Linked DNA regions of Homo sapiens: regions 1 and 2 are each linked to region 3. Evidence: fine-mapped expression QTL. A gene starts in region 3. Each other region holds a variant in brackets. All regions are shown on one strand. Distances are between the middles of the regions.

Region 1 (8,185 bases), 350 kb before region 3:
CTGGCTTCGTCACAGGAGCAAAGCCAAGTTTCTACAATAGTAGCTTTATGAGGTAAAATCAGAAAAAGGCCCCATCCAGAATGATTCAACGTGAAGTCAGACTGCAGTCCAGCCATCCTACCCATCTACATCACCCACGTCTAAGTTTGTTAATTTGCCATGACATGTTGTTAGAAATACACTCTAAGAAAGGAAATATGCAGAGCAGTACATTATCAGGAAGACGTTAATGAAAAGCTACATTCCTTCAGATTCTGGGTCCAAACCGTGTGTTGTATAGATGATTCGGGTCTGAATGTCCCCAGGGTCTGAGACCTCCTTCATCCCTGGCTTCACAGTACATCCATCCTAAATCCAGTGCTGAGAGGTCAGCGTTTCCCCTCAGAAGCAGCCGTTCATCAAAGTTTGCACAACCGCACTACTGCCATTTCACTGAAGTAAAAATGATCCCCTATGTGTGTGTGTGTGAGCTACAAGGAATTATTTCTATATTTTCCTGTCACATTTTATACAAGGTAGGTTAATACCAGCTGGGGCTATTAAAAATCATGTTTTCATTAAAGAAGATTTAATTTGGGGGGATTATAGAACCACATCCAACAACAATAAACAGAGAAGTAGCAGATTGACATAGTGCTTTATTTAAGCTGTCTGTACGAAGGAAAATCATGTTCATCCCTATCATATACGTGTAAAAATACTAAGGATGTACAGTGTACAAAAACAGTTTCTCCTAGTTATTCCACATCCTTGTGGGTCATATACTTCAGGAAATAGACAGGTTTAGTATGACCAACAGTAATAGTAATACAGTTTCTTGGGTTTATAGTTGCATCTGCTTAAAATCCTTAACCAGATGACTAGATCTTGCGCAGATCTAATGAAAGAACTAGCAAGGTCAAGAAATGTCACAAACTATAAAGCTACAGGGAGGTAATTCAATTACCAATTTAGAGGTTTTCTTTTTATTTAAATAAATACTTTACATTTCATGCTTGCCTGTAATGCACTACCAGGAGCAAGATAAGGAAATTCTACTGTAGACAGTACAAACAGTAGCAGCAAAGTGTGTATGTTGAGGTGTAATAGAGAGACCCTGCAGTTAGTAAGGAAGGCCCTTACTTTTGTACTCTAGGAGAAGCAAGTGGCCCCTGCAAGAACAGTCAGCTTTAAGAAGCTGGAAATCAGGGATGGGAAATGGAAAACAATACTTGAATAATGCTATGTAATTAGTGTAGAAAGCAAAGCTGAGCGCGACCCTGCCAACCATCTAAGCAGAAATGGCCAATTTCCTCCAAGATGGCTGCATTATGACAAGAAGTCAAGCTTCATGACAGTTAGTATGGGCTGGAGTCTGCAAAGTCTGAACTGTATTCTCATAGAATGATTCCAGGTTTCAGGGTGTTCCACCTGCCAGAACCCAAAACTACAACTATGGGCGACACAAGGGAAGTTTTAGAAATCTCCCTCTACACGCATTTCTGGTTTTCTATTATTCCTCCATGGCAGCTGACAGATCTGGAAGTGAAAATAGGGGATTCTCAAAATCAAAGCCAAGAAGACACCTTGTGTGACACCAATGGAGTCTCAGAGGGTGGAATAGAAGTGACTGAGCCCCAGGCATGGCTGGGAACTGAGAGCCAGTGTGAGGAGTGGCCCGCCTGGGGCAATGTCAGTGCCAGTCATTAATCTTTAAGAAGTGTCCTTGGCCAAGGTCATGGGAATCACTTTAAGATTTGCGGGAGAAAAAACCAAAACAACAAAAAGCTGTGTGCTTAGTGTTCGGTGTCATGCTTTCCCTCTAGAGGAGTAAGTGCTCTGAACATCAGCCAGTCTCAGCTTTCTGCTCTTCCTCTCACCTGTTTCTTTCTTATATAATGGATGCAAGACAACTTAAAGAACATACCTTCTAGTCTACTTTTTTGTCAAAATGAAACATTCAACATAATTCCAAGTGAAAAAAAAAAGATTAGCTATGTGTGTAAGTAAGAATGAACTACCATTTACTGTAACTTCCTACTCAATACTAAGGATGAACTTCACTCAGGTAGAAATATGAAAAAGAAGGATAACGTTGATGTCTGAATATGTCTTAGCTGCCTTAGTAAAATGCCCTTTAACCCCCGTCAGTCCCAGTGGCCCACCCACTGCCAGCAGTGGTTTCATAGCTATAAATCCACACTTCCAGCGTCAAGAGGCTAAGACATCTGCATATGAATATGATTCATCCTACTTAGAAAGTCACTTGCTCTTTCATACAATGCAATCATAATACTACGTCATGCTGTAGTCTTCCGTTTGGGAGCTGTCAGAGTTTAACTAAAATACATTTCCATGATCACTCCGCGGAGTAGGATGGCCTTCTGCTTGCCGCAAGAGTGGCCCCCAGCCCCTAGGACTTCACAGGCTGCTTTGGAAATTGTCAGCTCCTAGCACCAAAGGGTTTAATCTGAAGATCATCATTAATGAAGGAGAAAGATGAGGTTTGCATACATGCCCCCTTTCAGTGAGAAATGTTGGAATCTGGGGGACATGAGTATATACAGAAAAAGAAAAGCTGGAGGTGTTCTCTTTTTTTGTTGTTTTTTCCCTGATGGCTTAATTCAGTGATAAATGTACCATGATCCCAAGAAACACACCAGGTTCTTAGCCTTCACTGCCCATTTCCTAAATACTCAAGATGTGTTCATTTTGCCACGTAAAGATCATTTCTTATCTTCACTCAGGTCTCAATTTTCTTCATTACTTTTTGTTGCCAGGTCATCATAACGTTTCAAATTCTTAAATGAGCAAACGTCAACAGCTATTTGTTTCATTAACCCCTTGGCATGCATAGTTGGGGATTTTCTCATTTTCAGTACCAAGGGGTTAAATGGCAGCATCTCTTCTCCCAAAGCCAAATTCTAACCAATATATTCCATTTCAGAGCCTTATCATTTTTTTTAACAGAGGAGAAAAAGTGCATGATTCTCATCAGCGTGTACAATCCTTGCACATGGGTCAAAAGTAACTGCAGTAAGTCTATTTTATATAAGTTGGAGCTGCGTTTGCTAACATGACATACAATTCTCATCACTAAAAAATAAATACTACTGCAATATAAACAAAATCATAAAAGGACATTCAAAGTTTCAACATCTGAGAAAAAGCTAATTCACGTAGAACTGAAAGTAAAAAATTAAATAAGGCAAACACCTGTTTACCTTGGTGTAGAAATTTTGGTGAAAAGCAGTATCATTATACCTGTCTACATTCTTCAGCCATCAGAGGTGATAAATGTCAAGAAGGAAAAAAGGTTTCCAAGCACAGGGGAAAGATGCTCTCTGGCTCAAATTGTTTCATAAGACCCTTTAAGTGACCTTGACTGTGCATATGCCTTCAGTTCTTGGTAGAACAGTGTTCACTTGCTCATGATTGCCCGTGAAGTCTCGACATCCACATGTGATATGGGCT[T/G]CTTCTACAGTATCCACCAGGAATTTAAAAAAAAAAAATTATATATATATATATATATCCCAACAGTTGTTCAGTCCTTCTACCAAATGCTTCCTAATCAATTCCAGCCACAGCTTAGTGATATATGCCTACTTCACGCACGGATCTGATGTGCTTTACATATGCACGCCACCACCCTTCCACAATTGCTTGTTCTGAATTTATAAACTAAATCTTCTTAGTCTAGTTAGTTTTTCTCTTCTAGAAAGTTAAAAAATGTACCTAGAATCAGTGTATCTCATTTAGCCTTCACTGAGGGAAAAACTAAAAGATCAAAAGATGATAATTGGTGCACAAATGAACAATGGTGGGCTCATGACTTCCAAAGGTTGGAAAATTACTTCTTAAAGTTGCTATAATAGTAAGACAGTAGCAGCAACAGCATGAGACCTTAGACTGAGATACAATTTCATGCAAAAACAAAAACTGGAGTGTATTTGCGTGTATGTGTGTTTTCATGAGGGTGAAAGGTGGCGAGGGGTGAGGACCCTTGGCTGGTCTGGGATGTCGGAAGGTGCCCCTGCTATGTGTAAGAGCTAGGACTGGTGATGTCCAGGAATCATTTTCAGTAATAAATTGAAGATGACAGTGAAGTAGCAGAATGAAAGAGACTTATTCTCGTCCACTTGCAGAGTAGGAAAATTGAGGGAAATGCGGCCGCCTCTCATTGTCCATGCAGTCCATACCATCCTCATCATCTGTGGGCAGGAAACATCTATTTTAATTTTACACATTCATTTTTTGCAACATTATCTCTAGTCTATGTTTTTTAAACTCTGAACATAGGAAAGATGAACAGAGGCAATAGCTCCCATAAACTTGTGTTCATCAATAAGCTGTAGAGTAATTATACTTCAAAAATCATCTGATTTTCATAAATACATAGTCTATGAAGAAATAATACTATAGAATCATCTCTAAGACATCAAAATTTCAAGACTCAATGAAACAGTGAAAAAAATGGTATTGAAGAAAACAGAAGTTTTTAAGAAGGAGCAGTCTTCAGTAACCTTTCATTTCATGTAACCACATATATCAAAACTGCAAGTCAGTGAAATCCACAGCATCCAAAGTCTGTATAGAATTCATCATCGAATGTCTTCAAGTGCTTATATTTTTTCTTTGTGATGCTTTAAGTGCAACTGCAAAATAAAGCTTCTTATGAAATTTCATTCAACATCTAGCATCTGGCTTAACTCACCTTTCCCAATTTCCCTATGATAAAACTTTAGCATGAAGGGACTAAGTGAAAGAAAAAGAGGGAAGGATGTCAACATCTGAGTCCTAGCTCATCAGGAAACAATGGAAGAGACTTGAAAGGCATCAAAACAGGCCGCTGACAATCACAGTGTTCCTCCTGTCAGCTTTCCTGGTTTCCTGTATTTCAAAGATCACAGATGATCAGCACCCTGTTCTCATAAATGTCCTGTGATGACAGTCCTGTGCTGTTGGAAGCTCTTCCTGGTATGTGGCCACGTGGTCAGCCACTCAGTCAACATGCGCTCCCACGCATCTGCTCTGGGCTGAGCACCCGTCAGGCCCAAGGACCGCAGAACTTTGAACAAAGTCCCAAGGGCCCCCTGGCCTCACAGTCTCCTGGGGGAGGTGCTCCATTTTAAATCCCCCGTGCTTGCCTCTAAGCTTGTTTAATCATATGCTGTCCTGCAATGGAAATCAGTGAATCTTTCCAATACTCAACCCTTTTCTCTTCAAGCAAAATAATTCGATGTCCTCAAACCCATATAGGAAGTACATTACCAATTTTTTTGAATATTCTAACCTCTCCAGGGAGCATCCGCTGGATGTGGGTGTAAACAAAGAAAGCATACAGGCCAGATCCCACTGCACTGAGGCTCTGACTCTGTCACTCCGAAGAGGAGGGGGCTCTGCCTTTGTCTGAAGAATAAACACTTCCATTCTTGTATCACTGTTTTTCTTTTCTGTATCCCACTCTTAATGCAGAAGATTCTAGAAATGGGATCAAGCTGGCATTAGCCAAAATTTCTGACCCCTAATGTACCAGAAGATATCCTCGTATTAGGTGAGAACTGATCCATCAAGAAGCATTTGTGGCTCCCTGCTCTGTGTAAGACACTGAACTCGGAGGCCCTCTCTTCTTCTGCAAATAGACCACTGTAACTGCAGTCAGCATTTCTAGAAGGTATTGAGATTTGGGGAAATCTCTACCTCCTTATAAAGTTATTGGTTCCAATATTTGTACCAAGCAAGTCACACACATCTTTTAGATCAAATACCTTCAGCAGTATTTTTAGCTACAGTAAAAACGGAAGGAGCTGGGAATGATGGTGTACCCGTGGTTGAGCCCCAGAGTATAAAAACTCTCTAGAGAATACGGGCAGCTAAAACCTTAATGTTCAGATTCTGACATGAGCCAATCACATTTCAAATAAACAATTTTCCTCACCAACAGCTTTATTTTACTCAGTGTTTCTGCACAGCAAACCTGCAGCTGGCTCTGGACAGCAGTGGGGAGCCTGGTGCTTGTCCTGCTCAGCCAGGAAGGGCAGGAGCTGCCTGGACTCCTGGGGCCATGGCCAGGACTCATTCCAGCCCGGCGAGGTTCAGCACCCAGGTTAGCCAGATGCTCAACAGGGGCAGGTGCTAGACACCCTTTTGGAAGAGGAGGGACTCTTGCTGGTGTCAGCTAAGAATTGAGAGACAGCCTTCATTCTGTCACTTCAGTAACACATTCATCACAATTCTGAATCTAGGAAATTTCACAGATATCCCTGAGGGCCCCAATCCTTGATATTCTTTAAAGCCAATGATCTCCCTCCATCATTCCTGCCCCTTTCTGTTGTCAGGCTTGGAAACAATGAGGCGTGAACATCTGATCATGGCCCTAAAAGAGCTGAGAGCCTGGGCAGGGGCTGCGGTGGGAGGGGAGCTGGAGGAAGTGGCAGCTGACTCTGAGTCGGAGCCTGTCAATGTACACAAGTTAGTTCCTGCTGTGAGAGGCTGTGCATAGGGAATAGTGATGATAATGAACATGAACTATGTTTTTCAAAAACACTTATCTGGAAAAAGAAGACAATGATCAACTCTACTTGCTACATCCCTTGAATCCCTGCATCCAAGGAACATCAGTTGCCTGATTTTCTTAGAACATTTAACAAATGGCATTATATGGCAGTAAAAGCGACCAGATCTCAAAGAAACCCTCTTTTTCTGTAAGAGGAAGGAGGAGGACCATCAATGGCGATAACGAAAGATGACACATTCCCAAATCTGTTCCATTATTAACGCCAGTGAGGACAATCTGGCATGTCACTGCAGCTGTTTGTAGAAAATGGAACATTTTGCCTTTCTAACTGCTGATTTGTTCTAAACAATAACTGTATTCTGTTTTATACAAGCAAGGTGGCAAGTGGGAAGACAATTGCTAACGAATGGTACTACCCTGGACTTTTATCAACAAAACCTCTGTGTGTTAGCACTTAGGGAGCTGCAACGGTTTCTTACCAGTTAAACTATTCAAAGCTGCAAGAAAAAGGTTATGTTGAATGTAATCACCGTTCAAGGTTTCAGTGATTCTCATTTTATCTGCTCCTTAAGGGAATCTAGGATGTATCCAGGAACTGTCAAACTAAAAATACTGCCCCGTTGCCCTAGAAGAACCCAGAAGCTGCAGTTAACCACCATCAAGGCTGCTCCCCTAAGACAGGAAGCCCAGGGCCCCATGGCCCCCAGTGCTGAGCGCTGCGCTCTGCTGAGCCACACAGACAGCAGGAGAGGCTGCTGAACAGAGGTGCCTGCAGATGCGTCGATGCTAGTCTTTGCCTGGGCATACTCTGCTGAGCTCTTCCGTCTGACTTTCCTTGCTACAGAGGTCCTGAATAGGGAAAAACACAGCAAGTCCATAGCGCCCTCCCCACCCCTCAATTGCGGTGTGCCCTGTCAGAAACAGATGACATTGCTGGGCTCTCGTTTCCGTACTGTCCAGGGCCCAGGAGCAGGGCAGGACCACACCCCATTTCTGACACCCACAAAAGCCAGACTTTTTTTTTTTTTTTTTTTTTTTTTTAAAAGACAGAGTCTTGCTCTGTCACCCAGACTGGAGGGCAATGTTGTGATCTCAGCTCAGTGCAGCTTCTGCCTCCCGGGTTCAAGCGATCCTCCTGCCTCAGCCTCCCGAGTGGCTGGAATCACAGGAATGCACCACCACGTCTGGCTAATTTTTGTATTTTTTTTTGTAGAGAGGGGGTTTCACCATGTTGGCCAGGCTAGTCTCAGACTCCTCCTGACCTCAAGTGATCCACCCGCCTTGGCCTCCCAAAGTGCTGGGATTACAGGTGTGCACCACTGCGCCTAGACAAAAGCCAGACTTTTGTGGTCCTACAATTGCAGGTGGATTTTGATAACCATCTTGAAAGTTACTACAATGTACAGGCTTCCTAGGTATCTCTGTCTCAATCTAGAAGTGAACCTATTATCATTTAAAGACACCAAGGTTGTAGGGCTTTTACAGCATGATCCATGTCTGAAATGACACATGTTATTTAAGAACAGAGGTGCTGTCAGTGGTAAAATATGACATGCCAGGAAAAACATTCTTGATGGCTTTTATATTGCTGATTAATGAAGCCAAGGAACTAGGTTCAAATTATGTTCTAGAAACTGTGCTGGGGGACTTCTAACACCTTCTAACATTTCAGTCTCATTTTAGAAGTCC
Region 2 (8,185 bases), 250 kb before region 3:
TTATATTTATTGGGTTTATTTTGTTTTATTATTTTATAATATGCATCTCCTTCTAGAAATCATGACTGTTTTATTCATCCTAGCGAACGCAGTAAGCATTTAATACATACTTTTGATTGAATGAGCTAATCTTATTTGGGGAACATACCTGTTCTTGAAGATTTAGTTCAAATGCACCTTTCCTCCTAAAATCTCCTGTATAGGAGAACATTTGTGGGGATGTTATTTTTATCGTGGTGATGATTTCATGGGTCAAAAGTTATCAGATTGTACACTTTAAATATGTACAAATTATTTATAATTTGTTATTAACTCAGCAAAACTGTTTTAAAGAAAGGGAAACATCTTAAGACAAAATGCAGATTTTCTCACACAAATAAAAGCTAACAAAAGTTACGGCTATCAGACCTGCACTACAAAAACAAATGCTAAAGGAAGTTTTTATGCAAAAGGAAAATGTAATAGATGAAAATGTATACCAACACAAAGGAAAAGAGAACACTTAAAATGACTACTTTATGAATATAAAACATTTTTTCTATTAAAAATTATTTTAAAGATAATTGCTTAAGGCAAAAACAGTGTATTGTAAAGGTTAAAAAATACATGGAAGTAAAATGTCTGAGAACAACTGCACAAAAGACAGAAGGCAGGGAAACAGATGTATGCCTTTTAAGGTTCAGATAGAAGGTAAGAAAATAGACGTATGCTGTTATAAGGTTCTTACAGTACAGGTAAAGTGACACAGCATATTGTTTGAAAGTCTACCGTGATGAGAAAAGATACATATTCTAAACCCTAAAGCTACCACCATAAGAACAAAGAAGCAGAGCTAATCAAACTAAGATTATTTAAACTCATCAAATTACTAATAGAAATTCTTCAACTTTTAATAAAGAGCATCTACGAAAAATCTACAGCTAACAACATGGTTAATGGTGACAGTATGAATGCTTCTGCCCTAAAATTAGGTATAAAGCAAGGATATTTGCTCTTATCCTGCTCTTTAACACTGTTCTAAACATCCTGGATAGTTTAATAAGGCAAGGAAATGTACACATATTAGAAAATAGCAGTAAAACTGTCTTTGTTCTCACCTGACATGATCATCTACATAGAGAAATCCAATATATTTACAATAAAAGACTACTAAAACTAATATTAGTATGGCTAATAAGTAAACATCAACTGTATGTCTATATATTAGCAAGAATCAACTACAAATTGAAATTTTTAATAATGACTGATAAACCATTTATAACTTAAAAACATAAAATAATTATAAAGTATCCCTAAGGATAAATTTTTAAAACTTTCAAGACCTGTACACTAAAAACTACATAATATTGTTGAAAGAAATTAAAGACTTAAATAATGGGAAAACATATACCATATTTATGAATCAGAAGACAACACTGTGAAACTGTCAATTCTCCCCAAATTGATCAACAGATTTAACACAATCACAATTAAAATCCAGGAGGCTTTTATGTAGAATTCAACAAGCTTACTCTATAATTTATGTGGAAATGCAAAGGAAATTGGATAGCAAAACCAAATTTAAAAAGAATATCAAAATTGAAAGATTCAAGCTGCCTGATTTTAACACTTATTCTAAAGTAAGTGTGTGGCATAGTGAAGACAGTGTGGTATAGGTTTCAGGATAGATATAGACCAATACAACAGAATGCAGAGTCCAGAAATCGACCCACACATATATGACTGATTTTTGACAAGGGTACCAAATCATTCAATGGGAGAAAGACAGTCTTTTCAACAAATATGCTGGAACAGTTAGATATCACTTTGCAAGAAACAAATGAAACATGACCCTTATGTAGCAGTATACATTAAAATTAACTTGAAATGGCTCATAGACCTAAATGCAAGAGCTAAAACTATTAACACTTCTAGAAGAAAGCATAAAAGAAAATCTCCCCGACCTGCCACCACCCAACAGGTCTAGCTTTGACTTTAGAAAAAAATCTTAACAAACTTCAGTTAGAAAAAGATGTTTTAAAAACAAAATGTACAAATCATAAGAGAAAATAATCAATGAATTGTGTTTCCTCTAATTTAGAAGTCTGCCCTTCATACTGGTTGGAAAGCCTATCAGTGGTTTTCAGGGTGAGAGTGAGGGGAGAGAATTGACTTTAAAGAGACATGCGAGGCTCTGTTGTGAAAGAAACATTCTAGATCATGATTGTGGTGATGGGAAACTGCTTTATACAGCTGTCAAAACTCACTAAATTGTACAGTCAAAATTGATTAATTTTACTGAATGCTAACTATGCATTAAAATGCTGATTACAATAGATTACAACAAAAGTGTATTTTGGAACAATTTCCCATTATGAAATGAAAAGACAAACTATAAAATGGGAGAAAATATTTATAAAATATATATATGATAAAGCCCTTACATGAAATAAATAAATCTGACAACTCAATATTAAGACAACAACCTAATTTTTAAAACAGACAAAAGATTTTAAGATACTTCAAAAAAGATGATGTATAAATGGCAAATCAGAATAAGAAAAGAAGTTCAATATCATTAGTTATTTGAGAAATTCAAATTGAAGCTAAAAAATACCACTATACATCCACCAGAATGAGTAAAATTTAAAAAGACTACCATGCCAAGTGTGGTGATGTTGTCAAGTAACATCCTGGGAATGCAAAATGGTATGGCTGATTTTGAAAAGAGTCTGCAGTTTTTAATGAAGTTGATCATAACAAATGACACAGAAATTGCATTTCTATGTATTTACCCAAGAAGATTAAAAATATATATTCACACACAGATTTGTACTGGAATATTCACGAGCTTTTATTCTAATAGGCCCAAAATGTAAAGAACCCAAACGTCTATCCAGGGGCAACTATATAAACATATGACTGTACATCACACAACGGAGCAAAGCCATAAAAAGAAACAAACTACTGATATATGGAACAGTATCTATAAATTTTAAAAGTATTATGCTAAGTGAAAAATGGAGAACACAAAAGCCTGTAAGTATGTTTTCAGATTATAGTTTTTGATATTTAAATACTGTTTTGTGTCACTGCCCTCTTTTTCCTCCTCAGGGTTTCCAATTATACATATGTTGCTTCTTCTGTTTTCCCTCCCTTGAAATACCCACTCTGTGGTAAGCCAGCCTTTGTGTAAGAAGTTTGACTACCTTGAAATGGCCATGCTCTGCCATAACCACATGGAAAGGAATCATGTAAATACCCAGATGCCTGGCAGGCCCCTGCAGTTCCAGCCACTTGATCTGAGATTTTAGATTTGTAAGCAAGCATGTTACATGTTGAGGCTTGTAATAACATCTCCTAATAACTAAATTCAATGCATTCAATTACATTTAATGCAGTGAGATACTGGTTTAACCATTCATTTTTTAAAAATGTCTTTGAATTATGAAATTATATACTAAAAATGCTTCCCGACTTTACATTGCCTTTAGATGCTAATGTAAACATTGTAATGCATCCTTCTTGACTTGGGAATTTTGAAAAAGCATTGGGTGAAAAACAAAATTCTGATACAACCTACATAATATATTAATAACTAAAATAGTTAGCAAAGAAATTAGCTTGTCAGACACCTGACAATAAAGATGTTTATATACCTGAAAACTTTGTAAAATTTTAAAAATCATCACTATGAATATGAAATGATAATTAAATTAATTTAAAAATCACCCAGATCACACCTCCGTAAATTAGTAAGGAGAACTAGAATACTGACTACTGGTGCTTTTGTCTTATGTGAATTTAAAATGAGATAATTTTGGTTCACTGATAACAAAATGCCAGCCAAATGAGAAATCTGAATAAGCATGAGAATCTCAAGAATGGCAAGAACCTGAAAGCCGTATTGCAAAAAAATCAAATACATGTTATCAAAGAAATTAATATAGAGTTTACAATGAACTAAGTATGGACAAAAATAGTAGTACATAACTGAAACTGTTAGCTTCATTACAACCTACATAAAGAAAATAGAGGAATGTGAAGAATTTATCAGATGAATAGCATTTCTACACAATGATTTTCCTTTACTCCCCTAATGAATCTTTAACTTCAGGAAACTTCAGACTTGAGAGAGATTTGCAGAGGTCCAACAAATAAGCCTGAAATAAATGAAGCTATGAGTAAGATTTTGGAAACAAGTCCTAAGTAGAGACTTCCTAAACCAAAGAAAACAAAAACACCTCCTTAGTCAATTTTGTCTACTTTATTCTCCCAGGATATTTTTCTGCTTCTCATGTAAATTTAGTAACATTTAAGGAATAAAAAGAGAGCTGCCTGGATATATTAGCAGTGTGATTGGTCATATTATTAGAGAGATTTTACAATCAGTTCTACAAATGCCCCACTGAAATTGCACTGAACTCACTCTTACAACCTTGTTCTACTGGGCTCCAAACCAACCCTTTTACATTCTGTACTACAGCCAAGGTGCATACCTTGTACCAAACCAGAAAAGGAAGAATCCCTGGTAGTCTCCATAGGAACTATTAGATGGCAAATCCAATGGACAATTCTCAGTTATCATTGTACAGTATTTAATATACTCTGTTGTACCTAATCTCTCCTTAACTTCTAAGGCTTCTCTTGTCTGGCTCCTCCTGCCCAGGATCCTCCTTAGGCTTCTCTCTGCCTCTACACCTGTGCACTAGTCTCACTGCATCTACAGCTGTGTCTACAGCATGCCTTACTCTGGCATTTCCAGGCACCATCCTTGGCCACTGATGTTCTAACTGTACATACTTTCCTCACATTGGATATTTCCTCACTTCCTGGGTTTTAA[C/T]ACTGCTCATGATGCCTATTTGTATCTCTGATTTAACTCTCCCCACTCCTTGGCTGCCACACTAGGTGCCTCAAATATAGCATGATCTGCTTAAGAACTCATTCTTCTCCCTGTGTTTTCTATTTTTATAAATACTCCAGTATCCACAATTCCCCAAGCAGCAAACAGGAAATCATATGATACTTCTCTGCATATTTATTCATTAAATCCTGGTGATTCTAATAACTAAATATTACTAGAATTTGCTTCCTTCTAACACTGCTTCAATTAATAATCTTTTTTTTTTTTTTTTTTGAGATGGAGTTTTGCTCTTGTTGCCCAGGCTGGAGCACAATGGTGCAATCTAGGCTCACTGCAATCTCCACCTCCCAGGTTCAAGCAATTCTCCTGCCTCAGCCTCCCAAGTAGCTGGGATTACAGGCATGCGCCACCAGGCCTGGCTAATTTTGTATTTTTAGTACAGACGGGGTTTCTCCATGTTGGTCAGGCTGGTCTCAAACTCCTGGCCTCAGGTGATCCACCCACCTCAGCCTCCCATAGTGCTGAGATTCCAAGCATGAGCCACCACATCCGACAACCTTATCATTTTTATAAGTGAATTACTGAAAACCTTCTAACTGCAGCAACCTCCCAAGTATTTTCCTTGCTTCCACTTTTGTCCTCTCTACTTCAACCTCTATACTGCCAAGTATTCTTTCTAAACATTTCCCCCAAAGAAATTCTTCCATGATGCTCCACTGCCTTCATCTAAATGACTTGAGAGTGAAGATCTGTCTTAATGTGATTCTGACTACCTGTGCAGACTCTCTGGCTTTCCTCTGCAGAACTCTATGCATTATCCACACTGTGCTATATTCGGTGGGTGGGGGAACCTGTCTGCTCCTGTGTACTCTACACATGCCATTTTACCTGTGTAGGAATGCTCTCCTTCCCAACCTTAGTGATATAATGTATAGTTATTCTTACGTCTTAGCCTAGCAACCACTTTTTAAGAAGAGTTTCCTACTCTGGCACCCTTTGCTTTCCTTTCCTCTGCTCCTCAGGTTCATTAAAGTGCTCATTCTCTCCATGCACAGTAACCAGTATTATCAGAGCAACCATGTCACTGCAGTGTATACAAGTATTTTCTCATCTATCTCCCCAGTAAGTCACTCATCAAAGGAAAAATAGTATGTTTTCCTTATTTATGAATCTTCTGAGGTCTAGCCCACAGAAGTTGCTCATTATTTAATAGATGAATGATAATGTACTAGATTATAAAGTTAATCCATAAGGTATCAAAAATAATCAAATCACTCCCAAACATTCCTTAGAACGGTATTACACTGGAGACCAACATACTGTCATCTCTCGACATAGTTAAACCCAGGACAGTTTTCTATCTTTGGTACAATAATATAGTCTTTTTTCTTTTATTTTCTTTAGAGACAGGGTCTCACTCTGTTGCCCACGCTGGAGTGCAGTAGCACAACCATGGCTCACTATAACCCTGAGTTCCTCGGCTCAAGTGAACTTCCCACCTCAGCTTTCCTGATTAATTTACTAGGACTACAGGTACACATCACCATACATGGCTAACTTTTTTTTTTTTTTGACACGGGATCTCACCATGTTCGCCAGGCTGGTCTCAAACTCCTGGCCTCAAGCAATCCTCCTATCTCAGCTGCCCAAAGCACCAGAATTACAGGCATGAGCCACCAGGCCTGGCCAGAAAATAGTTTCTTTAAATGAACACCTGCAGTTACAATGCACTCAATGACATTTTATGTAAGTTTTGTATTTTAAAACACCAGAGTTTATATTCCATGAAGCTCTATGCATGGAAAGTAGGAAGTAACAAGGAGTAAAGAATAGCAAATTTATATCTCTCATCCTAAGGTCACTCTGTAAATACACTCATTGAGAAATTGAGAAAAAGAGCAGAATAATCACATCATTTAAATCAACTTGTCTATCTCAGCTATATCTTATTGAGCCCACTTCTTTGAATTCATATAAATTACATGCAACTATGATGAAATTCCATTGTACCAATACGACCGTAAGAAGTTAGGGCTGATTTTTCACAGCCAACATTTCTTTCACAATTCACTTTCATCAAAAATTTTTAGTGCTCCAAATACAGTCATGCATTACTTAACAACTGGGATATGGCCTGAGAAACTTGCTGGTAGGCAGATATGGTTTGGCTGTGTTCCCACCCAAATCTCATCTTGAACTGTAGTTCCCATAATCCCAATGTGTTGTGGGAGGGATCCACTGGAAGGTAATTGAATCACAGGGCTGGTTATCTCCATGCTGTTCTGCTGATAGTGAGTGAGTTCTGATGAAATCTGATGGTTTTATAAGGGGCTTTTCCTCCTTTGCTTAGCACTTCTCTCTCCTGCTCCTATGTGAAGAAGGACATGTTTGCTTCCCCTTTCACCACGATTGTAGGTTTCCTAAGGTCTCCCCAGCCCTGCAGAACTGAGTCAATTAAACCTCTTTCCTTTATAAATTACCCAGTCTCGGGCAGTTCACAGCAGCATGAGAACAGAGAATGGACTAATACAGTACATTGGTACCACAGAGAGTGTGGTGCTGCTGTAAAGATACCCAAAAATGTAAAAACAGCTTTCCAACCAGGTAACAGGCAAGGCTGGAACAGTATGGAGGGCTCAAAAGAAGACAGAAAAACGTGAGAAAGTTTGGAACTTCCTAGAGACTTGTTGAATAGCTTTGACCAAAATGCTGACAGTGATATGGACAATAAAGTCCAGGCTGAGGTGGCCTCAGATGAAGACGAGGAACTTACTGGTAAGTGGAGTAAAGGTGACTCTTGCTATGCTTTACCAAAGAGAATGGTGGCATTTTGCCCCTGCCCTAGAGATCTAAGGAACTTTGAACTTGAAGGAGATGATTTGGGGGTATCTGGTGGAGGAAATTTCTAAGTGGCAAAGCATTGAAGAGAACGCGGAGAAGAAAAGTTTGCAAAATTTGCAGCCTGACAATACAATAGAAAAGAAAAACCCATTTTGTGGGGAGAAATTCAAGCCCACTGCAAAAGTTGGCATAAGTAACAAGGAGCCAGATGTTAATCACCAAGACAAAGGAGAAAATGTCTTCAGGGCATTTCAGAGACCTTTGCAGCAGCCCCTCCCATCATAGGCCCAGAGGCCTAGGAGGGAAAAACAGTTTTGTGGGCCAGGGCCAGGGCCCAAAAGCAGGGCCCCCCAACCCGGCTCTGTGCAGCCTTGGGACATGGTGCCCTGCATCCCAACTGCTTCAGTCCCAGCTGTGGCTAAAAGGGACCAATGTACAGCTCAGGCCATTGCTTCAGAGGGTGCAAGCCCCAAGCATTGGCAGCTTCCATGTGGTGTTGGT
Region 3 (8,185 bases):
CCTGTAGTTGGTGATAGAGTACTGAAAAGAAACAGAACTAAAAAACACATCAACAAGTCAAGAAGCATATATTAATTTTATCTACCCATTAGTATTCAAAGATTACTTGGCAGAGAAAATGAGTTTACATCTAATTTGATTAAAGACTATGATGCTATAATAAAATCTGTAAACATTTGAGTTATTTAATTTGGCATTTTAAACAAATGAAAGGTGATGTTAATGGGCCAGTCAATACACTTTTATTAACTTGATGCTATGGAAATTATTGTACCAAATTTTGCAAATTTAGAATTATCACTGTTAACTGTAATAATAGGTACAAACAAGAAAAACACTAGAAGTGTTGCAGAATTAGGAAAGTTTAAATAAAAGGTATTTTTAGAATGCCACAATAAGTTTTTCTTATGTGAAAATCACTTTCAAAAGTGTAGCAGGGGTTGTTTGAAAGATTAAATGAATACAGGTAAAGCACATAGAACAGTGCCTGGCACATGGCAACTGCTTACCAGGCATTGGTTAGCATTAACTCTAAACTGAATCTAATCCTATCCCATGTAAAAGATCAGGACAAAGTATTTGTTGTCGGAAGATTCAGGACTATCTTTCCAAAAGAAGGTATGCTGTGTGACCAGGATTTAAAATACTGATGCACATGCTGAAACCTGGAGTAACACAAATCTTCTAACAAAAATTAATTGTATTATTAATGCATATTAACTTAAAAATAAAAATGCCAGTCAGATCACAAGACTGATTTGCTCAAAATGAAAATGGTTTTTCAGTTCTTGCATTTTGTTGCTCAAATCTAAGATAGTTTTAAATTTTTCTTTTTAACACTTCAAAACTTAATCACACTATAAAGACAAGCTCCTATCAAATCATGCTAAGCATCCAACTAACAAGTTGTTAACAGTGATTGCCTTACCTTCCCAAGGACAAATTCTTGAACTAAAAGATATAATAACAAAAGAAAACATAGCTATCTTTTCACGAAAATACACAAAGTTTAAGTAAAGGCTAAACTTCTACAAAATCAATTTGTAAAACAGGTTCCTCATTTTAAAGAAACCCAGATAGCTGGAAATTTCCACTGAATTTTTATGAGAAAATTTCTGATGTTTACATCAAAAGCTACAGCTTAAAAAATAAGTCCTTACTTTCCACAAGTCTCTATGCTAAGTCCATTTGTTCCCTAGTAAGTTTAATCAACACGTTTATTTAGATTTGCAGTGATTCTGAAAACAGATTCCTTCTGACAGTGATTTTCTGAATGAAATGTAAATATTAAAAGTTTTTAATTAAACCAGCACACAGTTCACACTCCAGTATTTGTTAAATATAATCTTATTTAAAATATTTTACAGCTATGAAATTAATTTTTAAAAAGTCCAAAGCAAAACCTTAAAGTACTCTGACATATACAATTTAGAGTCGATGTCAAGATTATTAAGCCAAAAATTAATTTTAAATTGGAAAACAATTCACTCCAGTAATAATTATGGAAAGAAAACCAAATGAATACAAATAATAATTTCACAATTTTTGCAGGATTACTTTGGACTATTTTTAAAACGCTGTAAGAAAACATGCTGCAAAACCACAATGCAAATACACAACTGAAAACTAAAACCCTACATTCATCTAAATTTCAACAGTCTCATTCATGTAATATTTGTCCTCCCTCACTTTAAAACTGGAACCTCAAGCCAATCAAAGATATTGGGGTCAACCCTAGTAAGGAAAACAAAAAGATCTTCAAGTACCATCTCCCTGTAAACTTTCAAGTACTATCTCCTTGGTAAACTTTCCAAGTCAAGATAATGTACTGGCAAAAGGAAAACAATTACAGTCCGGATATATATCTTGCATATAATTGTGCATTAAGTCATAAACCTTGGAAAACTAGTAACTTAGTAATAAGTTGCTATTTTAATTATAAAATATTTTCATGTTTTAGACAACCACCCCCGGAATGTTTGTATTCGTTTATACATATTTTGCAAGTGATACTCAAGTTCTGAAGACTAATCTTCATTTCCTACACCATCTTTATTAGACTCTTCCACCTTCGTTTTCCTAAGTAAATACATAACCTAAACCAATGAGTTTCACTCATTTGTCAGCTTCAACCACTGACAAAACCCAGTGGTTGCCTAGTGATGTATAGTTCTACTAAAAGACATATATGACCATGCTTTACCAAATACGGAACACATGTCTAAACTGTTGAGACAACTGCCAATGTATTAACTACAAAAAGCCATTATTTTTTACTTTAGCCTCAACTAAAATCAAAGTGTGAACACTTTATTATGGCTAGAAATTACCCAATATAGATGCATAGGTTTCACTGTTGACTTTCTATTTGGAAACTTCATCAATTGCAAACTACCAGGCTTTCAACCAAAATGCCACATTGGTGAAATGAGTTGGTTTTATTTTCATAACAACATTATTTTGATGGAAGAAATGTGAGCATCCCAGCTTTGACTTGTGGGTAAGCATTTCCTCTGCTTTCAGAACATAAACAGTAAATACCGGTATTGGAAAAACCTGGCCCCAACGAGATTCTTTATCTCTAGGCTAACTGTAGATTCCCGGGAAATCCCAAACAAGGGATGGTGACCCCGCCTCGGCGTCAGGGTCAACACAGCAACCAGCTAGGCTTCAACTTTGGGCTCTGAAGGGCCCCACCGGCATCATGGCTGATGCGGACCGATGCGCCGGAGGAGGTGGACAAGGAAGAGGCTGGTCTGTTTACTTGCAGCCAGAGCTGCCGCCGCCGCCAGCAGCGACAGCATCACTGGATCAGCCAAACCCAGCATCTTCCGCACATTTCTATTCTTAGCACACAACTCCCAAGCGGATCAAAACCCCACTACTATTAAAAACACAGACAAGCACGTTACCCACCTCCCACACACACACCCCCCCCCCCACCCCACCAGTGCCGTCTTTTCCTGCGCGCCAGTGGCGGGGAAGGGTGGGGGAAGGAAGGAGACCCCGGGGACGCCTGTGCATCCTCGCCTTCACCCCACCCCACGCGCAGACAGCCTCAGCGCCAGGGCGCGCGGCAGACGGCTCCCTCCCCCCAACCCAAACACACTGACACCGGCGCTCCACGCGTTATATAACCTCGCCGCCGCCCCCGGTCCAGGCGGGCGCCCCCTCCCCACGCCGCGCGGCCCGGGCGGGGAGGGGCGAGGGGAAGGAGCGAGAGTTGCGCAGACAGCAGGCGCCGGGCCGGGGCAGCCCAGACACAGACGGTACCGCTAGGCCGGGAACACCCCTCCCCCGGCCCGCTGCGCACCGCCGCCCCCCAGCTTTCCCCGGAAAGCGGGGGGTGTCGGTGTCAACCGCGCTGGGCATCCCCCGGCCTCCACACCCACACCCGAAGCCTCCGGTGACCCAGCCCCCGCCCACGCCCCCGGCGCGGTGACAACCCAGAAGCCCCCGCCTCACCCCACCCCGCCGCCATCCCCCGCCTGAGGGAGGCAGGGAGGGCGGACCGGGGCCCGGGGCCCGGAGGGAGTGGAGGCCAGGCGGGGAGGGGGCTAGAGTTGGGGGCGGTGGCTGTTACCTGCAACGGCGGCGGCGGCGGTGGCGGCCCCGCAGCTGCTCGGGCGGCGGCGGAGGATGGAGCCGGGGGGGGGCGGGGGGAGGAGAGGGGGCGACTCGGGGGTCCCCCCTCCCTCCTCCTCCCCTCCTGTCCTCCCCCCACCCCACAGAGCCTCTGGCCTCCTGGAGCCCGGTGCGGCCGGCGGGAGGGCAAGCGAAGGGCTGCAGGGGAGGGAGGGAGGGAGCCGGCCGGGCCGGGCCGCGGAGCTGGAGCGGGAGGCGGCGGCGGCGGCGGCGGCGGCGGGAGGGGGAGGGAGGAGAGAGGGCGGCGGCGGGGAGAGGAGGAGGCGGAGACTCTACATGGGAATCGGATATCGGCTACAAATTCATCACCAGAAAACACCGCTCGGGCGGGGGCCGGGTCACGCCGGCGGGGCGGCGGCTCTGGGCCCCGGGGCGCGCCCGGCGCGGGGAGGGGTTCTGCGGCCTCCTCCCGGGCTGCGCCTCGCTGAGGGGACCCCCCGCCGCCTCCCCGCCCCCTCCTTCCTCCCGCTCGGGGCCGCCGCCGATCGGTTCTCGCCGTCGCCGCGGGGCTTGTTGTTGACTTTGAGGAAAACTCCTGACGTCAGGGGCTGGCTCTCGGCGACTGGCGGGAGCGGCTTCCCCGCGTCCCCGGCCCTGCCCGCCGCCTCTGCTCCCCTCCCTGCCCGGCCCTCGTCCTCAGGCTTCCCCGCGCCCCCAAACCAGCGGTGCCCCGCGCCCCCTCTCCTCTCGCGAGAACATCCCCCTAGCCAGCCAGAGCCGGGAGCGGGGGCAGTCGCTCCCGGGCGGGAAGTTCTGGGTTTCCCCCTCGCCCGCGTGGCCCTTGGCGGGCACCCGAGGCCCGGGAGCGGAGGCTCCTCGCCCAGCCGCTTCCTCGGCGCATCCGCCCACCCGCCCTGGCCGCGGACGCGCGCGCCGCCAGGCCCCGGGCGTCTCCTCCAGTCCGCCGCGGCCCCTTGGGGAGATGGGCCCGGCGCGAGGGCTCGCACCTGGAAGCCCACGAAGTGGGCGGTGCCCAATGAGGTAGGGACCGGAGAGCGCGGAGCAGTCCAGAAGCCGACCCCACCCCCTGCACCTCGGGGAAGAGGGAACCCGGGTCAGCCCGTAGCAAGAATCATTCCTGACTATCCCAGGAGACCACGGCAGACCAAAAACACCTCTCTGAACAGCCTTCCGCACCGCTCGCTGCAAGCATTCGTCCACACACGGTACACAGATTGCGGGCGGATCGTAATTCACTCTTGAAATCACACCCTTTTTAGGGATATTCGTTTTCAATGACTTTGGGAAAGCCACGAGGTACTACATTTACTACGAAGAGACCGTTTCTTTATTTTGAAGTCAGTGACTCCTGAGACTGCATTGGGGACAACTTTTTTGCACAATGACCATATTTTACCATGCAGCGCACTTCAGAAAATTATAAAAGTTTACAAGTTTTATCGCTTCTGGAAACACCTGGGCAGCATCCCTATTATCCCGCCACGTGGCTCTAGCCTTGTTGATGTACCTGTTACTTTCTCCCACTGCAACATTTTTGTTAATGTCTGTGGCTTCTTTCTGCAGAAGAGTTCCTCCTCCTGACATGCACTTCATTCTCTGCTTTTCTATGTCTTGACAACTCTCTTATGGTAGTCATTTTCTTATACTGTAGCCCCCTGGTATTTATGTACTGTGTGGTATTAATATTTATACTTCCAGGTTCACATCTTTTATGAACTGTGCATCTGTTGGGATTGTGGACAGGAGTAGGAAACCAAATAAAAGGGTTTTTTAAAAAAGTCAGTTTTCTCCGTTTGTAAGGGAAACTTGTCTCCCTGACCACCCTGGAGCAAAATTTGCCATTTTAAGATAACACAGTCCGTCTGAGAGAAAGTCCTGCACCATGCCTTTCCCCTTTTCCCATATTTCCCAGCATGCTATGAGCTGATGAATAAACAGACTTTGTCCTATTTTCGTTGTATCTATAAAATATACATAATGTATTCCCATAATTATCAGACCTCTCACAGTCACTATTGGTAAAATTATTGGGTTACAGGTTTCTTGCTGTAAAACACAAAAATAGGTCATATTTTTATTCCATAGTACCCCAACTTGCTTTTTATTTTTAAGAAAATAGTCCCTTATGACACCAGCACTAAAAAGAGTGTCTGAAACTTTAAATACTTAACTTTTGAGAGTCAGAGTATCCGGAATTACTGAATTACTAGATATCTCTTATCAGTGAGATGTTCATTTGTTCCCAAATTTAACATCAATATATTTACAAGAACTGAATGTGTCTTATGAGCCATACTACCTCAAAATATTTCTCCCAGTCTGGTCAGATTGCATTAAATCTTAGGTGGATTAAACCCTAAAATTCAGTATGTGAGAATGGATTATATACTCTCGGCTTCATGTATTTGAAGAATTATAAGTTTTTATTTCTGTTCAATTTTTGCTTGTGGACTATAGTAGTTTCATAAGTTTCCATAATAAAAGCATGTTTGATTTTGTTATTGAATTACTATTGATTAGGGATATTATTTATTTAAATAACGTTGTTCTTTCTCTTAGACTATGCCGGTATGAATTTGGTAGAATCTGCCGATTGTGGTATGTCGGTACTCCATACAGAGTGTGTGGCAGATTTCTTCTCTATTTTGTTATCACATCCAGTAATATGGAGTGCAGCCAGCATGTTCATCCCTGGGAATGTCCCTCCTAAATTTTGCAAAGAAAGCCTTCATTCTTTATTACACCAAATATTCTTAAGATTAACATTTCTCAGTATTAGTTATTTATTCATTTTAAGAAAAATGTTCATTCTTCTTTACTACCAATGACTAAGTTTGATACTGAGCTATTTCTTGGTACTTCCCCCATTTCTTGGGAGTAACTAAAACTGGAAGGATATTTAGAATTTCAGAGCATCTAATGTCTTAGTCCATTCAGGCTGCTATAACAAAATACCATCAACTAGGTAGCTTATAAAGAACAGAAATTTATTTCTAACAGTTCTGGAGGCTGGGAAGTCCAAGATCATGGCACCAGCAGATTTGGTGTCTAAAGAGGGTTCCGTTTCCTGGTTTGTAGGTGGTGACTTCTTGCTGTGTCTTCACATTTTAGAAAGAGTGAGGGAACTCTCTTGGACCTCTTTTTCTTTTTCTTTGTTTTTTTTTTTTTTTTTTTTTTTTTTTTTTTTTTTTTTTTTAGAGACAGTGTCTCATTCTGTCACCCAGACTGGAGTGCAGTGGCATGATCATAGCTCACTGTAGCCTGGAACTCCTAGGCTCAGGCAACCCTCCTGCCTCAGCCTCCTGAGTAGCTGAGACTACCAGCATGAGTTAATGTTCCCAGCCATCTTGAGCCTCTTTTATAAGGGCACTAATCCCATTCTTGAGGGCTCAAACCCTCATGACTTAATCACCTCCCAAAGGCCCCATCTACTAACACACTTTGGAAGTTAGGATTTCAATCTATGAATTTGGGGAAACACAAAAATTCAGACCAGGGCATCACATAACAAAAATTAAGTTACTGCTCTTCTGTCTTAATAGAAAGGGTGTGTCATCCTAGGAGAGGGCATGGAACAAAGCAGACACAGAATACCTGTTTGTGGAAGAAATACATGTTCTAATGTTCTAATGACGGCTCTAATAAATCTGTGTACTATGTACAGTTTATATAGTATTTTCCTCTTGGGATGTAACGTGATTTATTGGAAAGAACATAAAAGTGCTTTGGAGACTTGCAGACCAGAGTTCAAATCCTCTCTCTGCAGAGTTTGTCTCATCTCAGGCAAGTTACTTAATTTTTCTAAGCCTTATATTTCCTTATTTGTGAAATGGCAGTTACAACTACTTCAACAACTTATGTGAATTAAATTTTATGAAATATTAGTATCTAAAACACAGTGAGTGGTCAGCAAGCTAAGATTCCTTTACCATAAATGTGAATATATTTATGTTAAACTAACAATAGCTGCTACAAACAAATACAAAAATCTATATTGGCACTCTCTGCCACAGTTGGTTCTGAAATAACCACGTTAAGTCTACAGCTGTAATTAGTGAATATATTCTAGATGATTAATAGAACAATTTCTAAAGGAGTATAGCTTAAATTTCTGTTGGTTAAGCCTCCCAATCTGTGATATTTTTCTTACAGCATCCCAAACTGACTAAGGCACACAGTTCATTACAATAGTTATCAGTACTAATTGTCTTTTTCTCCCTTTCCCTGATGTCTGTCTGTCTGTCTGTCTGTTTTTCTGTTTTTTTTTTTTTTTTTAGACAGAGTCTGGCTCTGTCACCAGGCTGGAGTGCAGTGGCATGATCTCGGCTCACTGCAACTCCACCTCTCGGGTTCAAGTGATTCTCCTGCTTCAGCCTCCCGAGTAGCTGGGATTACAGGCGCCTGCCACCACGCCCAGCTAATTTTTGTATTTTTAGTAGAGATGGGGTTTCCCCATGTTGGCCAGGATGGTCTCGATCTCCTGACCTCGTGATCCGCCCACCTCAGCCTCCCAAAGTCCTGATGTCTTTCTTAAGGCACAGGCCAGGTGCCTGTACAAGAACATATGAGCATAGCCAAG

Evidence for each region.
Region 1: its variant is fine-mapped to the expression of AKT3 in whole blood (TOPMed, PIP 0.91).
Region 2: its variant is fine-mapped to the expression of AKT3 in lung (TOPMed, PIP 0.95).

What each region holds. Positions count from the first base shown.
Region 1 is chr1:243,501,145-243,509,329 of GRCh38, forward strand. It overlaps AKT3 (AKT serine/threonine kinase 3), which reads right to left. Exons shown (of 14, transcript NM_005465.7): 14 at 1-4,190. The coding sequence ends at 4,105. Among named protein-coding and RNA genes, the nearest start is that of MIR4677, 160 kb to the left of the region's middle. The variant T/G (reference allele first, on the strand shown) is at 3,454.
Region 2 is chr1:243,598,797-243,606,981 of GRCh38, forward strand. The region is part of intron 8 of AKT3 (AKT serine/threonine kinase 3); the gene reads right to left. Among named protein-coding and RNA genes, the nearest start is that of AKT3-IT1, 190 kb to the right of the region's middle. The variant C/T (reference allele first, on the strand shown) is at 4,823.
Region 3 is chr1:243,846,457-243,854,641 of GRCh38, forward strand. AKT3 (AKT serine/threonine kinase 3) reads right to left here and starts at 3,787. Exons shown (of 14, transcript NM_005465.7): 1 at 3,584-3,787. RefSeq lists an enhancer at 2,696-3,196.